Regions from separate parts of the Homo sapiens genome. Here region 1 is linked to region 2. Evidence: fine-mapped expression QTL. Tissue or cell type: uterus. Region 2 holds a variant in brackets; the other region holds the start of a gene. All regions are shown on one strand. Distances are from middle to middle.

What was found. PIP is the estimated chance that this variant, and not a neighbour inherited with it, causes the effect.
Region 1: it holds the start of SAMD9L, and the variant in region 2 is fine-mapped to the expression of SAMD9L in uterus (GTEx, PIP 0.91).

Annotation. Positions count from the first base shown.
Region 1 is chr7:93,143,305-93,151,416 of GRCh38, reverse strand. It overlaps SAMD9L (sterile alpha motif domain containing 9 like), which reads left to right and starts at 3,032. Exons shown (of 5, transcript NM_152703.5): 1 at 3,032-3,223; 2 at 4,271-4,534; 3 at 5,377-6,032; 4 at 6,584-6,685. RefSeq lists an enhancer at 3,733-3,832.
Region 2 is chr7:93,383,393-93,391,504 of GRCh38, reverse strand. No RefSeq gene overlaps it. Among named protein-coding and RNA genes, the nearest start is that of MIR653, 95 kb to the left of the region's middle. The variant A/C (reference allele first, on the strand shown) is at 3,456.

The sequences.
Region 1 (8,112 bases), 240 kb after region 2:
CAGCCAAGAGCTGCACCTTGTGGGAGGTCCTTCTTACTCCTTCTGCTTCCTCTGCTTTGTCCCTGTTATTGAAAACTAAAAATACCATATCCAAAAGCTGTTCCATATGGGAGTTTGGGGACCCATAGCTGCTTTTTCTAGTTTCCTATGGATATCAAGGGCAGACTGGGTTATAAAATGTACTCTCAAAAGGGTTTGTCCTTCCCTTGAAGCAGGATCAGTGTTAGTATATTTCCTAATTGCCTCAACTAAATGCCCTTGAAACAAAGCTGGATTCTCATCTTTGTCCTGAGAAACTTCCTTAATTTTTCATAGTTAACAGGCTTTTTCATACATTTCTTCATCCCTTCCAACAAACAAGTGACCATATGATCGCTCCTCCCCAAGTTGTCACTGCCCCTTTGATAGTTCCACTCTGGATCTTGATCTGGAACTGCTCTACCTCCTGCCTGATATGTATTATGGTTTGGGTTGTTAGCCAATGCCTCATCTGCATGAGCCCTAGCTGTCCCCAAAATGCATTGTTTCTCTTCCACTGTACAACACAGAGACAACAAAACATGGAGATCCTGCCAAGTTAACTATAGGTCAGAATTAATTTCTCAAATTAATCTATGAATCTTCCTGGGTCTTCAGAGAAATCACCAAACTTCTCTTTACATAGAGTCAAATCAGACAAAAAAAAAAAAAGGGAACATGTACTCTCACAGTGCCTTCTTCCCCATTTGCCACCTCTCTAAGTGGACAAAGGTTTCCCTTTGGAGGTTGATAGGAGGCTCCACTAGGGGTAGTACTCACCAGGCTAAGTTCCTCAGGGAGTGGTGGGTATAGAGTGGGGCTAGATGGGTAAGGAGGATGGGACAAAGGGTTCTCCAAGGGGATAGAGGGAGAAAGGACAGACACATCTGAACCTTCAGAGCTGACAGAAGGAGGTTCTGCTCCACCCAAAACTGCCTGCTGAACCAAGGTTGCTTGCATTAAAGGATCATCTAGTATGTCTAGCTTTTTTTCCTCTTTTCCTCTCATCAAACATGATTCACATTATCCAAATAACATAAGTGAGCTGAGTCATGAATCTTAGATAAACCACAACATGGACTTTGACAAAAATGTTGAATAAGGCAAGGGAAATGAAGAGGATTTAGATGGGAATGACCAGAGCAAGCAGGTTCTGGGCAATAGAGACAGTGTGGATTGAACAAGCAAAGCCGGTTTGCCTGAATGCAAGAAAGGAAAGAAGTGTTTTTAGTGTGCAAAGTGAAACAAAACATCAGAGTCCCCTGATTTCCATCCTAGTGCTTCTCGATCACACCTAGTCGGCATAGCAGCAACAAAACATAATCTAATTTTATTGCTCATAGCTGTTGAATACCAAATCTCAATCAGCAATTTTAAAGACGGAGCCGTCAATGCTTTTTGTTCCCAATGTTTCAAGAGCAGACACATGGAAATCAGGAGGCACATAGGAAAAGAGTAAGTTAAAATCCCTAAGACCATTTAGATAAAGTCTCCCGAAAATGACAGTGAAACACAGACAGCAACCAAGAAATTGATTTATGCAGCAAGGAGGACAAGGCAGATTAATACAAAGTGCATAGCCTGCAGTGCCAAACCCTTTTTTAGCAGAGAGGGACTTTACTGAGAGGGCCCTCTAACCCCCTAAATCTTAGAAGGAACTCTAAACCTTTTAAGTTGGTCCTCTAATCCGAGGTCAGTCAAGCATCTTTGCCTTTTATTAACAGGGGTCTCTAATTCACCCTGTCTTCGGAGAGACTCTAATTCCCCTAAGTTGGGCCTCTAACCCAATCCCATTCTTTACCCGGGTACCCCACCACTTACCCAAAGTCATCCAATCAGTGCTATAGTCCATTTCCTTTGGGTTGGTGGGGAGGTTCTTCAGTATCGGTCCCTCATGGTTGCCAGAAATGTTACAGGACCAGGGTTCCAATCCAGACCCCTAGAGAGGGTTCTTGGAGCTCATGCAAGAAAGAATTCAGGGCGAGTCCACAGTGCAAAGTAAAAGCAAGTTTATTAAGAAAGTACAGTGGTAAAAGGACAGCTACTCCACAGACAGAGTAGGACGTTCCCGAAAGTAAGAGGAGGAACACATCCACCCTAGGTACAATGCTTGTATATATGGAGAGATGTGTTTTGCTACAAGGGTTTCTGATAAAGAATTAATTTTCTTAATTAGTGTATTTTGCAAGAATCAATATTATTTTCTTTAAAGCAAAATTAAGAATGCCTCTGTTCTCCAGATATTGGGATATCTGGACACTCCCAAGTCACGGTCTGCTTAGTAAATATTATTAATTTGCTCCCTTAATCATAAACATCTAGAGGCTAGGAATGCCTACCTTTCTGAGAAGGCAGCCCAGCAAGTCTCAGCCTCATTTTCGTAGCCCTCATTCAAAATGGAGTCACTCTGGTTCGAATGTCTCTGACATTATCAGGGTTGGTTTCTTCTGATGTCTCTCTCCTTGGCTTGTAGATGGCCATCTTTTCTTTGTGTCTTCACATGGTCTTCCCTCTGTATGTGTCTGTGTCCCAATCTCGTCTTCTTACAAGGACACAGTCAGATTCAATTACAGACACTCTAATGACCTCATTTTAACTTAATTATCTCCTGAAAGACCTTATCTCCAAATACAGTTACATTTGGAGGGAGTGAGGATTAGGACTTTAACATATGAATGTTTGGGGGACACAATTCAACCAGTAACAGGAACTTAGATTGCACTGACATATTAATTTTCTCCCTGGTATTTCCATTCTCTTTGTCCTGTAGGTAGTTTTTTGGGTCACTGGGTTTTTTTGTTTGTTTGTTTGTTGTTTCCTTATTCCTTAACTCTTATAACTTAAAAATCTGCCTGGTAAACAGTTTCTAAGCAGTGATTCAAATTTATTGATATTTTTGGTAATGTTATTGATTAAAAAACATTTCAGATCCTTCTAAACTCAAGAAAAAAGAATGTTCTAAAGCAAAACTGAAACTGTCTATACTTCAACTTCCTCCTGCTTCTCAACTGGCACTCTGACACACCCTCAGAAAGTCAGAGTACTGGGAGAACAGAAGACTTCACAATTTAATGCCTCAGTTTTTAAAAAAGGATCCTTACACTTCATGTCTCCTAGCCATCAGAAGAGGAATGAGACAGCAAAAGTTCAAATGGCCTGTTTCAAGTTTCTGATATAAAACGATGACATTTTCAGGAAAATCCTGGTAAGTAAACTGAATCATTAAACCTTTATTTGTTATGCTTTTGAGGCGACAGCTATTTTTTAAAACTTCAGCTGTACTTTTTATATAAATATATGTTTGTACATAAACGATTACTTATAAAAATACTAGAGTAATTAGAAAAATCAATGGATTAAATACATGTCAGTATATTTAACTGATAATAACTTTGTAAGTGCTCTTCTAAAAAGAAACATACCATTAAGTGTAATTAGGATAGTGGGAGGGTTTCTGATTGTGGCAGGCAGGCTTTGGAAAAGAGGATAGAGAAACGATGCAAACAGGGTCAGGAATTTAAGCACTGAAGATTCTAAAGGAACGTGTGATCTTGTGTAATTACACAAAATTCTGTCTTCATAACGTAAGATGTTATTAAAACTTTTACATTTTATCAAAGTTAATACTCTGCAGAGGCTAAATATTATTCTATTAAAGTATTTCATTCACATACATCTTATCCAGCAATCTGGTTGAAAACTAAGAAAAAAAATGCAAAGTGTTCTTCAGGAAAACGAAACTAACTTGCTTGTGTGGCTTCTGTCTGCCAGACTATGCAAGGAGGGTGTGGGTAGCTCTCCTGGGCTACAGCCAGATTCTGAAGTGTGTTTCCCCTACATCAGTTCTAAGAATCCTGCAGAGCAGAACACCTCCCTAGGGCATGGATATCAGCGGTGTTGCTGAGGGTCTCTCAAAGATGGGGTGGGCTTGTCCCTGAGAGTTTGCTGACTTGGAAATTCTTGCTGAGCATCAAAGAGAGAAAACTGAAGTGTTGAGGATGCCAACCTGCAACTCCTTTGTCAATAACCAACGTTGCTAAAGATAATATTTGTCTTCACAATTGTTTCAAAACAGGACACTGAGGGCCCCTAGAAAGCCAAGACTTAAGTCAAGGCAATCACAAAATTTGTCCACACTAATCATGGTCATTTTGATTGTTACTTAGTTCCAACAGCATACATCCAGATGCTCTTAAAATTGTACTGGCTAAAACGAAAGAAAAAATCTGGAGTCTGTTTTTTCCATCTTTAGCATTTCCAGAGAGAGACTGGCTGGTTAAATTTCTGAAAGAGGACACCAGCTAAAAGAAGGTATTGCATCTCACCCGAGCAGACTGTGTCTGTGGAAAGTGTAAGCCCCTTGCCAGAAGAGCAGCTTCCCAGCAAAGGCAGAGGGTGAAAACAGCAAAGGTCTTAAGACACTGGGGACCTAGAGTCAAAAGGGACCTCCTCCAGGGAAAACGCTGTGTGAGAAATGGCCTCATTCGGTGACTGTGAGTGACACAGCAGAAAGTTGGTAAGGTGTAGTCTGTAACTAGGGTATCTACAAAAACTGCAGGAGAAAATATATTCATTTGTTTTGCTTTCCTTTTGAAAAAAAAACTTCCTTTTCATTATTTGTGACCAGATGATAGAAGCTGGAGTTCATTCTGGCCTAACGGGTAGCACAGTAAAGAGATTTCCCCAGATTTCTACCTGGAGTTCCAGCCAAGCGAAATAATTTCCCTAGGAAAATGAGGAAGTCCTTTGACCCACAGACACTGGTAGCTCAAGGCCTTTCAAATATTCATTACTTTTAACTACTCTAAGAAAATGTGTTACTCATTTAACAGATTTTTGTTAAGAAGCTATTATGTGCTAGGCAATGCCAGATAATGAACAAAATGTAAAGAAATTTGTCCTTATGGAGTGCATAGAATAATGGGTTGGACAGAAAATAAATAGGTTAAAATATATAAAATATTTGCTGCTTGTAAGTCCTAAGTAGATAAAAAATGAAGCCAGAAGAGGGATAGGAAATGTTGGGAGGTGGGATAAAGTTTTCAGTAGGCTGGCCAAACAGTGCCTTGCTGAGAAGGTGACATTTGACAAAAGATCTCAACAAAGTGAAAGAGTGAGCCCTGCTGGTATCCAGGGACATTCCAGGAAGGGAAAACAAGTGTAGTGGCTGGAAACAGGGGCAGGTGCTTCCTTCAGGAAGCAACGAGGAGGTCAGGGGACTGGGCCAGATTTAGAGGGAAAAATAAAAGACCTAATATCAGAGGATTAGCAGGGTACCAGATTGTGTGAGGCCTTGTCAGATGGAAAGCCACAGACAGGGTTGGACACAACATTGATATGATGTTTACATTTTAACAGGGTCATTCCGGCTGCTTTTTTGAGAAGTCCCTGAAGAGATCAATAACAGCAAGAGGGAACCTGGCAAGGAAGCTATTCCTATAATCCAGGAAAGAGATGAGGAAGGCTTGGACCAGGTGGTAGTGGTGTCAGGTAGTCAAATGCTGGGTATATTTTGAAGATACACCCCATAGGATTTGCTCCACATTGAATGTGGAATGCTGGAAGAGAGATAAAGTGTACCTGTCACATACTTTTTGAGTTTTATTTATTTTCTTAGAAGTAAGTACACAAAGAGATGCTACCTAGGAGAAGGGTATTCTTTTCACTATTCTTTCAAATTTTCTGTATGTTCAAACATTTTCATAGTAGAAAGTTGGGGGGAAAATCTGTTTCATAAACATTTCCTCAGCAGCAGTCCAGTCTATTGCATTTTAATTGGTTGTGATATCATTGTTTTATGCAATACGTTCTCAACAAGTATATCCTCCGGCAAACTGAACAAGGACCAAGTCTGTTCTGCCTACAGCTCTGCTTCCTCATAGCTGCTTTCCAGAACGTGACTCTTGCAAATTATCAAGAAAGGGGAACTAATCTAAGGGATCCAGATCAAACAGCCTCATGAAGACTTATTTTATGTTTCTAATATAAAGATAGAAGTTTTCAGAAAAGCCCTGGTAAGTTTCTAATCATTAAAGTCTTGTTTAATCAACTCTCTTTAAAAGCTATCTTTAAAAACTAATTATAAAAAGTAAAACAGAACTTTGAAAATGAACATACTTGCAAGTGTGCATAAGCTATTTCTTATGAAACCATTTTAAAAGGAATGAGAAATATCACTATTTTTATATGAGAATCAATAGATGTAACTTGTGCTGATTGCAGAATTTTTAAACAAGAAACTTTCCAGCAAGCATGGTGACGGTGCAGCATATTTCTAGAGGTGGAAAGCTCTGGGGTGAGGCTAAAAAACCTGGGTAAAACATAGACCAGGAGATCAGGAATCCAAGCATACAAAACCATGTAGAAAATTGTAGCCATGTGCAGCTATGCCATACTCTGTCCTATAAGTTACATTTAATTAAAGAATAAAATCCTCCAAGGTTTAGCCATCATTTTATGTAAGACTTTTATGCACATCTAGCTTGTATAGAGACTATGGGAGGAAATACATAATTTGAACTTGCACTTCAAGAAAATAAAACTAACTTTTGCTTTGCGATTTCAGCTACACAGAGGATCAGAGCAGGGGTGGGCCTGCTGGGCTGCAGCTGGGATTCTGAGCATCCTTTCCCGGAGGCACGGAAAGTGAGTGAGTGAGCCCAGTGAGGTGAGTGAGCCCAGTGAGGCCCAGCCTCCTAGACATGATGGTGAGCACCAGAGCTTGCCAAGGGCAGGCCAGTTTGATCCTTCCTGCTTAGTCCCTAAAGAGAGAAAAATAATAGTCCTTAGGCAGTAGATCCTAAAATTTATTATCTGTAGGGGATCCATTCCAGGACCTGCGCAGATACCAAAACCTGTACATGCTCAAATCCCTAATGTGAAATGGCAAGGTATTTGCATATAACCTATACACATCCTCCCGTGTACTTTGAGTCATCTCTAGATTAGTTATAATGCCTAATACAATGTAATATTATATAGTTGTTATACCGTATTTATTGTTTAGGGAATAGTGACAATAAAAACAAGTCTTTACATTTTCAGTACAGATGCAATTTTTTTTTCAAATATTTTCAATCTGTGGTTGATTGAACCCACAGATGTGGTACCCACTGATAGGGAGGGCCCAGTGTACAAATAAAGAGAACTCTGTGTTTCAAAATTATCCCAGAACAGAATAGAGTTAAGGTGAAGGTCTTCTGCCCAGCTCCAACCAGAGCAGCTACACCTTTATCCATGTTAGATACAGTGGTTTCAGGTGCATTTATTTGAAGAAGCAGAACAAAAACAAGCAATAGCTAAGACAACACTAGTTCTGGTCCAATTTTCCTATATTATAAGTGGGAAAACAGGCTCACTGAGAGGAGACATAATTTAATCGTGACATCATTTTTCTGATCACAACTCCTCCACCTTTATACACACTGTGTAGCTTCTTGCTAAACATGAAAGCCCTCATGTTTAAAACTATGCCTGCAGTCTAGGGTGTAAGGTTTAAGTCACAGAAAGAGCCAAAGGGTTATGTCAAAGCATTATTAAAGACTTTTGCCCAAATCACTGTCACCTGAATTAAATAACAGTTCCAACTACCTATGGATTATAGATCATATAAGATGCTTATAATTGACAGAGGGCAAAATTCACATGAAAGTAATATTGAATACATAATAGCTTCAAGTTGTTAAATATATTCTCAGCTACCAATGGGAAATGGTGGAATTCTGGCTGAGAAATATTTTTATGTTATATGTTATCATACTAACACATGATGTAGTAACAGAAGAAAAGTGAAGAAGCAGGTCGGTAGGTAGATGTGGTTTCAGGAGTTTGGAGAAGCTCTCTTTGGATTCCTTCAATTCTGCTGGTTTAAACAGGAAGCAAGGTGACCGTGGTGAGGAGGTGTTGTAGGTTTGATGAGAGAGGAGAAACAATGAAATGATCATTTAGGAGAATAAAAGAGTGATTAAAGCAGAGAAATAGAGCATGGTAGCTGAGAGCATTAAGGTGGGACCAGTTATGGTATGGAGGGCCACTGTCCAGCCATGTTCCAGTCAGGGTGTGAAGGGCCATTGTCCAGTATACTCCAGTCAGGGT
Region 2 (8,112 bases):
TGAAGTGTTAAAATATGTAAATATATAAGAAAATGTAAACAACTCTGATTTTAAAGTATCATATGGAGAAAAGCATTCTAATAATAAAAACTATGTAATTTTTTGGAGATATAATATTAGCCCTTTTTTTGACAATGCTGTTCAATTAGACCAGCCTCTCTGGCTTAGATCATGGATCTTTAAAATGTCTTATGAGTTAAAAGAGAAGCTTGAGATTTGGGGGTGAACAGGAGAGAGAGGAAAATTAGCAGAGAATAAGAGAAATTTATGAATCAAACCATCATACCCAGGTGACACATGTGACAAACAAATTGTGGCATGTGAGATTACACCTAAAATATTTATAGAAGAGAAAATAAAATGGAGTTATCCCACAGATGGCCTGAGAGAACTTCAGATAGTTTAGAAAACAGCCAGTCATCTTGCAGCAGAGTTTTTAAGTTACTTTTTCTGCTAGTGTTAAAGACAGCATGGAAGCATAGGATGCCTTGTCTGATGGTTATAACTATCTTTTCCCACCAGGTGAGTCATGGTTTTTTTTCCTAGTTTTTAAAACTTGACTTGCTTGAATGCACACACACACACACACACACACACACACACCTCCTTAAAATAAATGTCTCTGTCTATGTACACATCTTGCTGGTTTTGTACAAAACCCTGACTAATACAGTGAGCATATGGCAAATGGCAGTTGACCATAACCCAACCACCTAACCTTCCACGTCGGGCTCAACTGTCAGCTCTACCGAGTCATAAGAAGGAAATCTTGTCTTGCTTCCTAGTTTCTTCTTTGTTTCTAATTCCTTAGCCAGGATTGAGTGGGCTCTTGCTTTCTTATTTTCTGGGCCCCCGTGTAATTTCTCCAGTCCCCTTAGGCAGAGAAACAGCACACTTTTGTTTTGACTTTTTAATTAAATTTTCTATTTTGAGATAATTGTAGATTAGCACGAAGTTGTAAGAAATAATACAGAGGGATCATCTTTAGCCTTTACCCAGTTTTCCCCAATGGCAACATCTTGCAAAACTATAGTACCACAGGCATGAGATTGACATTGATATAGTCAAGATACAGGATGTCTTCATCACCACAAGGATCCCTCCTATTGCTCTTTTACAGACATGCTCACTTCCCTCTCACTCTCACCTCCTCCTTACCTCCTGGCAATCACTAATTTGTTTTCATGTCTATAATTTTGTCCTGTCAAAAATCCTATATAAATGGAATTAAACTGATTATAACCTTAGAATTGGCTTTTTCACTCAGCATAAGTATCTAGAAATTTATTCAGGTTGTTGAATGTATCTGAATAGTTTTCCTTCGTATGAATATACCACAGTTTTTCAACCATTCATTTGTTGAAGGACATCTAGATTGCTTCCAATTTTGGCTATCATGGATACAGCTGTTATGAATGTTCATGTGTGGGTTTTCATGTGAACTTAAGTTTTTATTTATCTGGAATAAATGCTTAGGAGTGAAATTACTGGATCATATGAAAATTACATTTTTAGTTTTTTAGAAACTACAAAACTGTTTTCTAGAGTGATTGTACCACTTTACATTCCTGCCAGCAATGAGTCATTCAGTTTCTCTATCTTTTCTGAATTTTGTGTTGTCACTATTTTTTATTTTAGCCATTCTGATAGTTATGTAATGATATTTCAGTGCAATTTTAATTTCCTTAATGGCTAATGGTTTTGACATCTTTTCATGTGCTTATTTGTATCTGTATATCCTTTCTGGTCAAATCTCTTCTGTGTTTTGCCCAATTTTTAATGGATTTTTTTTTTTACTATTGAGATTTGAGAAATCTTTATCTATTCTAGATACTAGTATCTTGCTAGATATGTGGTTTGCAATTTTTCTTTCAGCTTGAAGCTTGTTTTTTAATCACCTTAAGAGAGGTTTTTGCAGAAAAAAAAGTTTTTCATTTTGATCAAGTACAGTTTATCAGTTTTTTTTAATGGACCATGCTTTTGGTGTTAAATCTAAACACTCTTTGCTTAGCCCTAGATCTCAAAGATTGTCTCCTGTGTTTTTCTAACATTTTTATAGTTTTACATTTAAGTCTATGGTTCATTATGTGGTTTTTTAATATATAAAGTCTGATTTTTATATTTTATCTTGTATTGTGGGACCCTGCTGAACTCACTTTATTAGTTCTAAAAGTATTTTTATATATTCCTTGGAACTTTCATGCAGATATTCATGTTACCTGCAAATAGGGGCAGTTGGACTTCCTCCTTTCCTATCTATAGGACTTTTATTTCTACTCCTTTTATTTGTTCTTTCTTTTCTTGCTAGAACTTCCAGTGCTATACTGAATAAGAAGAGAGTGGACATCTTAGCCTTGTTGCTGATTTTAGAATGAAAGCATTCAGTATAATGTTAGCTGTAGGTTGTTTGAAGATACTCTTTATGAAGCTGAGAAAGTTCTCCTCTATTACAGTTTTTCTGGGTTTTTCTCATGAATGTGTGCTGAATTTTGTTAAATAATTTTTCTGTATTTCTTGACACAAACGTGATTTCCTTCTTTAATCTGTTAAGATGGTGGTTACTTTGATTTTCAACTAGTGAGCCAACCTTGCTTTCCTGGAATAAACTCCCTGGTCATGGTATATAATTCTCATTGTATATGGCCAAAATCCATCGGCTAATATTTTCCTAATAATGTTTGCATCAATATTTATGAGGAATATTGGTCAGTAGTTTTCTCTCTTTTTTAATGTTTTTGTCTGATTTTGGTATCAGGGTAATACCAGCTTCATAAAATGAATTAGGAAGCATTCTCTTTGCTTCCCTTCTCTGGGAGAGATTACATAGATTTGGTTTTATTTTTTCTTTTGGATTTTTTTTTTTTTTTTTTTGAAATCTCACTCTGTTGCCCAGGCTGGAGTTCAATGGTGCGATCTCGGCTCACTGCAACATCTGCCTCCTAGCGAGTCTATTGCCTCAGTCTCCTGAGTAGCTGGGATTATGGGTGCCTGCCACCACACCCAGCTAATTTTTGTATTTTTAGTAGAGATGGGGTTTCACCATGATGGCCAGGCTAGTCGTGAACTCCTGGCCTCAAGTGATCCACCAGCCTTGGCCCTCCAAAATGCTGGGATTACAGGTGTGAGCCACTGCTCTCAGCCCCTCTGGAAAATTTTAACTTACAAATTTAAATTCTTTAATAACCATAGAATTACTCAAATTATCTATTTCATGCTGGGTGAGATGTGATTGTTTCTGTTTTTTGAGGAATTGTTCATTTTATCTAAGCTTTCAAATGTATGTGTGTAGAGTCATCTGTAGTATACCCTCCTAACCCTTTTGTTGTCTTTAGAGTCTATAGTGACATCCTCTGTTTCATTCATGATATTGGTAATTTGTGTCTGCTGTCTTTACTCCTTGTAATGCTGCTGAGAAGAGGTAGAAATTTAGGTTTCCCTGCTGGTTGCTGCTCCTC[A/C]TCAGGAGGAAAGTACAGAGAGTAGGGTAAGGTGGGAGTGAGCAGGTGTGATGATGGGGAGTGAATCTTGGCACTGCCCTGTGGGGATAAAAGTTCTGCCTCTTTATTCAGCTCTCCCTGACAACACCCTGATGAGAGTCGGGGTAGGTTGGGATGCCTCCTTATAGCTTGGTGGTGGTGGAAGCATAGGCTCCTCATTTAGCCTTTGCTGGCCTGGATGAGGGTGGGTCCACCATTTTATTTGGGGTGTTTGAGCAGTGGGGTAATTTTTTCTAAAAGATTTTCTTTTTGCTAGGCTTCCGTATTAGTCAGTACGGACTATACGTACATATATATATGTACACACACACACATATATATGTATATATATGTATAAATGTTTATTTTATATATATTCATGTTTATTAAGTATTCATTAAGTACGAACTTACACAATCACAAGGTCCCACAATATGCTGTCTGCAAGCTGAGGAGCAAGGAGAGCCAGTCCGAGTCCCAAAACTGAAGAACTTGGAGTCTGATGTTCGAGGGCAGGAAGCATCCAGCATGGGAGAAACATGTAGATTGGGAGGCTAGGACCGTATCATCACTTCACGTTTTTCTGCCAGCTTTGTATTTACTGGCGGCTGATTAGATGGTGCCCACCTGATTAAGGGTGGATCTGCCTTCCCCAGCCCACTGACTCAAATGTTAATCTCCTTTGGCAACGCCCTAACAGACACCCAGGATCAATATTGCATCCTTCAATCCAATCAAGTTGACACTCAGTGTTAACCATCACAGCTTCTTTCCTGGTCCTTTGGTTAGAGAGAGTAGGCTTTTCCTGGGGCTCATTCTGATCTGTGCCCATTGTTTTTTCTGTGTTGCTGGCTTCTTCAACTTCTACTCTGGGATATATGAAGCAAAAAGAAAACTCAAGGGATTTACCACCGTTTTTTTGCCAGGAGGTCCTGAGGTCTCTAGCTAGTCTGTCTTCTTCCCCGCATCTTTCAGAGTTCTTATCTATCTATCATCTGTCCGTGTATCATCTCCAGGGTTTTATTCCAGGGAGGAATAGAGAAATTTACATATACTTCATTTTCCTGGGAGTGCAGGTTCTCAGCATGTTTTTTTAAAAAAATAAAATAATAATAAAATTTTTTAAAAAGCCAGGATTTCTTACAGTATCTTTGTTATAGGCAAGGCTACCACTGCTTGCTTTTCAATGTATGTGGGCTGAATAGGTGTCAGTTTCCTATCTTCTCAGCCAGCTTGGAGTCAACTCTGTATATTTGATTTGTATTTGCAGTTAAACATGATTCTGACCTTCACATTCCTTTTGACAGCTCAGTGGCTATTTTTTGGTGCCTTTTCAATTACAAACAAAAACTGAAGCCCAAGCTTTGCCTTTTGGCTTTTGCTCACTGGATTGGCTTCCTTCTAATTTGAGGAGATCTAAACTATCAAGTGTTTTCTGCTCCCTCCCTGGGAAATGGAAGATTTAACATGAGGAGAAATTATGAGTGAGTTGGTCCACTTCTCCCTCTTCTTCTCTTGAGGGCTGCTCTATTCCTCATCCACCTGTAGTCACAACTCTGCCAAGAATCTAGTGTCTGTTGAACCCCATGGCTGTACCCCCACTGGGATCTGCCCTTCATAGAATTCTATGGGATTTTGGCTCTTCTTGCTCCCTGCTGCCAAATATCTCTACTTAGAATCCCATTTCTTCATCTAGCCCATTGCTGAGAAATAGATGAAGTATATGTGTAAATATATGGATGGCTGTTTATTCCTGTGTTAACCTTTCTAGTTAAAGAATTTTCATCTGACAATGGTCTTCCTCAGGCAGAGACTTAATATAAAATGACTTACAAGGAGGCATGTTAGCAGGGATTATGTTTATAAGGAAGGGTCTCCAGGGCCCTTTCAATCATAGCATTTGGCATCTTTATATTTTATTCAAGCATAGTTGTTAAAGAGACAAGGGCTTCATTCATCCTTCAAGACTCACCTGAGGCTTAGCCTTTTTGAAAGTTTTCTCTGACTTCCTCCATTCTGGTATAGATCGCCCTCCATCCTCTGTGTTTCCACATCACCTGGTAAGTCATTCCATCATTGCTGTGATCATTCAATATTTGTTAGTTTACATGTCTACATCCCTTACTAAACTTTAAGAGAGGGCCTATGTTGGTCAACTTTGTAAATGCAATTATCTGTCACAGTAATTGTACATGGAGATACTCAATAGATACTTGGTACACAAATACATAAATGAATACATGAATGATGGATTGATCTAGGTTATGAAATAAAAAGGCCTTTTACAGGTCTTTTACCTTTCTTTCTTTTGGCTTTGGGTGAATAGTGATTTTTGCCTTTAAGCTTACAAGAAATTATTATCACTTGGAAGAAGCAGAAAAACTATAACTCAGAGAGCAGAAATCTTGCATGAAAGGTTAAATGAGTGTAACTTGTCATATAATTGAAATTTAAATATAATATACTAGTTTTATAGGGGAGAACCTTCCATAAACCTTTCATGGGAATTAAACATGAAGCTTACTAAGAGGAGCACTTAAACTGTCACTTTAGCTTATTAGGAAAATACTTGCTCACTTTATCCAAAAGCAGAATAATCATTGTTGCGAAAGTCTGAAATTGACTATGGCTTCAGATCACTAAAATATGCTGGATTTTACTTTTAAAGATTATACAATCTTGTAAAGTTATATATTTTGAGTACAACAAGTAAGTTTTTAAAGGAAATTTAAATATGAACATGATATAAGGAATATTCTTCCTTCTCCAAGTGTGTCTGCCCTAATCTTTTGGACATTTTGTTGGTATGAAAATGGTGAACATAATTATTCTAATGGTTTATCATTACAAGTTTATTGAATAATGTGGAAAATTATACATACTAACTTATTTGCTCAAAATTAGAGGCTATTAGAGAAGTGTGAATCTACAGTCTGCTTCAAAGAAGCCGTGATTTGTTTATGAACTGTTCATAGTTATGAACTATTTGATTACAGGTTTCTTGATTCATGGTCATAATTTGCTGGTTGTTATCTCCCACAGAGAGGAACAGAGTTTTAGAGAAAGAAAGTTTAATATATATTTAGTCATTAATCTCCCAATAAGAACTGGGTTTTGGTAAGACTATAAATTTCAGCAAGAAAAAGATTAAAATGACAATCTTTAAGTTTCTTGACAAACTTGGAGCATATTGTTCGTTTGTTCATGCTTTTATTTATACTTGAAACATATTATAAATCCAACCCAACATTTTCTCCACCTACAATATTATTTCTTCACATCTTTTCCTTTTCACCAAGCTCCTCTCTTAGTTAATGCCATAAACATCCTTCTAGTCTCCTGGCTGGAAATCTTGAAGCCATTTCCAACTCCTCATTTTCCTTAATCTTCCACAACTTATGAAATACTAATTCTAGTTGGTTCTGCCCACAAAGTTCCTGTCATACTTGCTATTTCCTTTTCATTGACATTACCGTTGGCTGATTCCAAGTTCTTAGTATCTCTTGCTTGAATTAATAAAATATTCTCTAACTTGAGTACAGGTTTCTGATATTTACCAATTTTCATCCATTGTGCCATTGTCCTTCTTTAATGCTGTGAAATTATTTGCATTGCATTTGAGTCTCTTGTATTGATCCTTCAATACAACCATAGAAGCCCACGGTTTCCCAAGCATGCCATTTTAAAACCTCTGTTTGGTTTATGCTAGAAATGGCAAAATAGACCTTAACACTTAGGCTCAAATCAGAAGCAACTTTTGACAGTTTCCGTGCAAATCCTACCCTTCTGAACTATGTGGCAGGAAAGAGCATATGGTAAAAGAGAAAGAAGAATGTACTAGAAACATGTTATACTCATTTTCCCTTCATCAGCCTCCCCATACTTCCAATATCATTATTCTTTTTTCTAATACCCTCTAAATGCCCCTGCATGTCCTATGTCCTGACCTGGGGCAGGGCTGATTGGGAGGGTCTAGTTGGTTGCTGAAGAAAAGGAGAAAAGCTAAACTTCAATACACATGCCACTTTTGAGTGAACATAGGGTCTGAAGCATTCCTTGAGGAACAGTAGAATCATGGGCTTGGTGTTGACACAACCCAATCATTCATTTACTTAATCCAACTTTATTGCTCACCAGTTTCCCAAACTTAGGGACAATGTGTATAATGCCATTTGCACCTTGGTTCTCTCCTATGTGAAAAGGTGATGATAGATTTAAAACCACCCACCATTTTCTGCTGATGGTACATTCCTTATCGTATCAAAAAATAGAGCAGAAGAAGCACAGATGTGGAGAGAAGCTGTGCAAGTGTGATGTGGACATGCTTTTGAAGTACATTCCTCATGCTCTCTTCTCCCCGAACTTTGTTTCCGGCTGTGTGATGTAGAAGTAAGGGAAAGGTGGGAAAGTGGGTCAGGGATTTTCCCACTGCTTTAATGCAGCTACTACTCATGTGCTCTGTAACGGCAAATGTAAGGAGGAGAGAGACAGCTCTCAGTTGCTCCACAGGCTGCTGTTTCATGCATTCTATACAGCATGGTTCATACTGGAGCCCTGCTGCGAGACAGGAGACAGACACAGTCCTCATTGAGAAGAGGTTGTGGACTAGACTGTAGACGGAAATGGAAGCATTTGGATC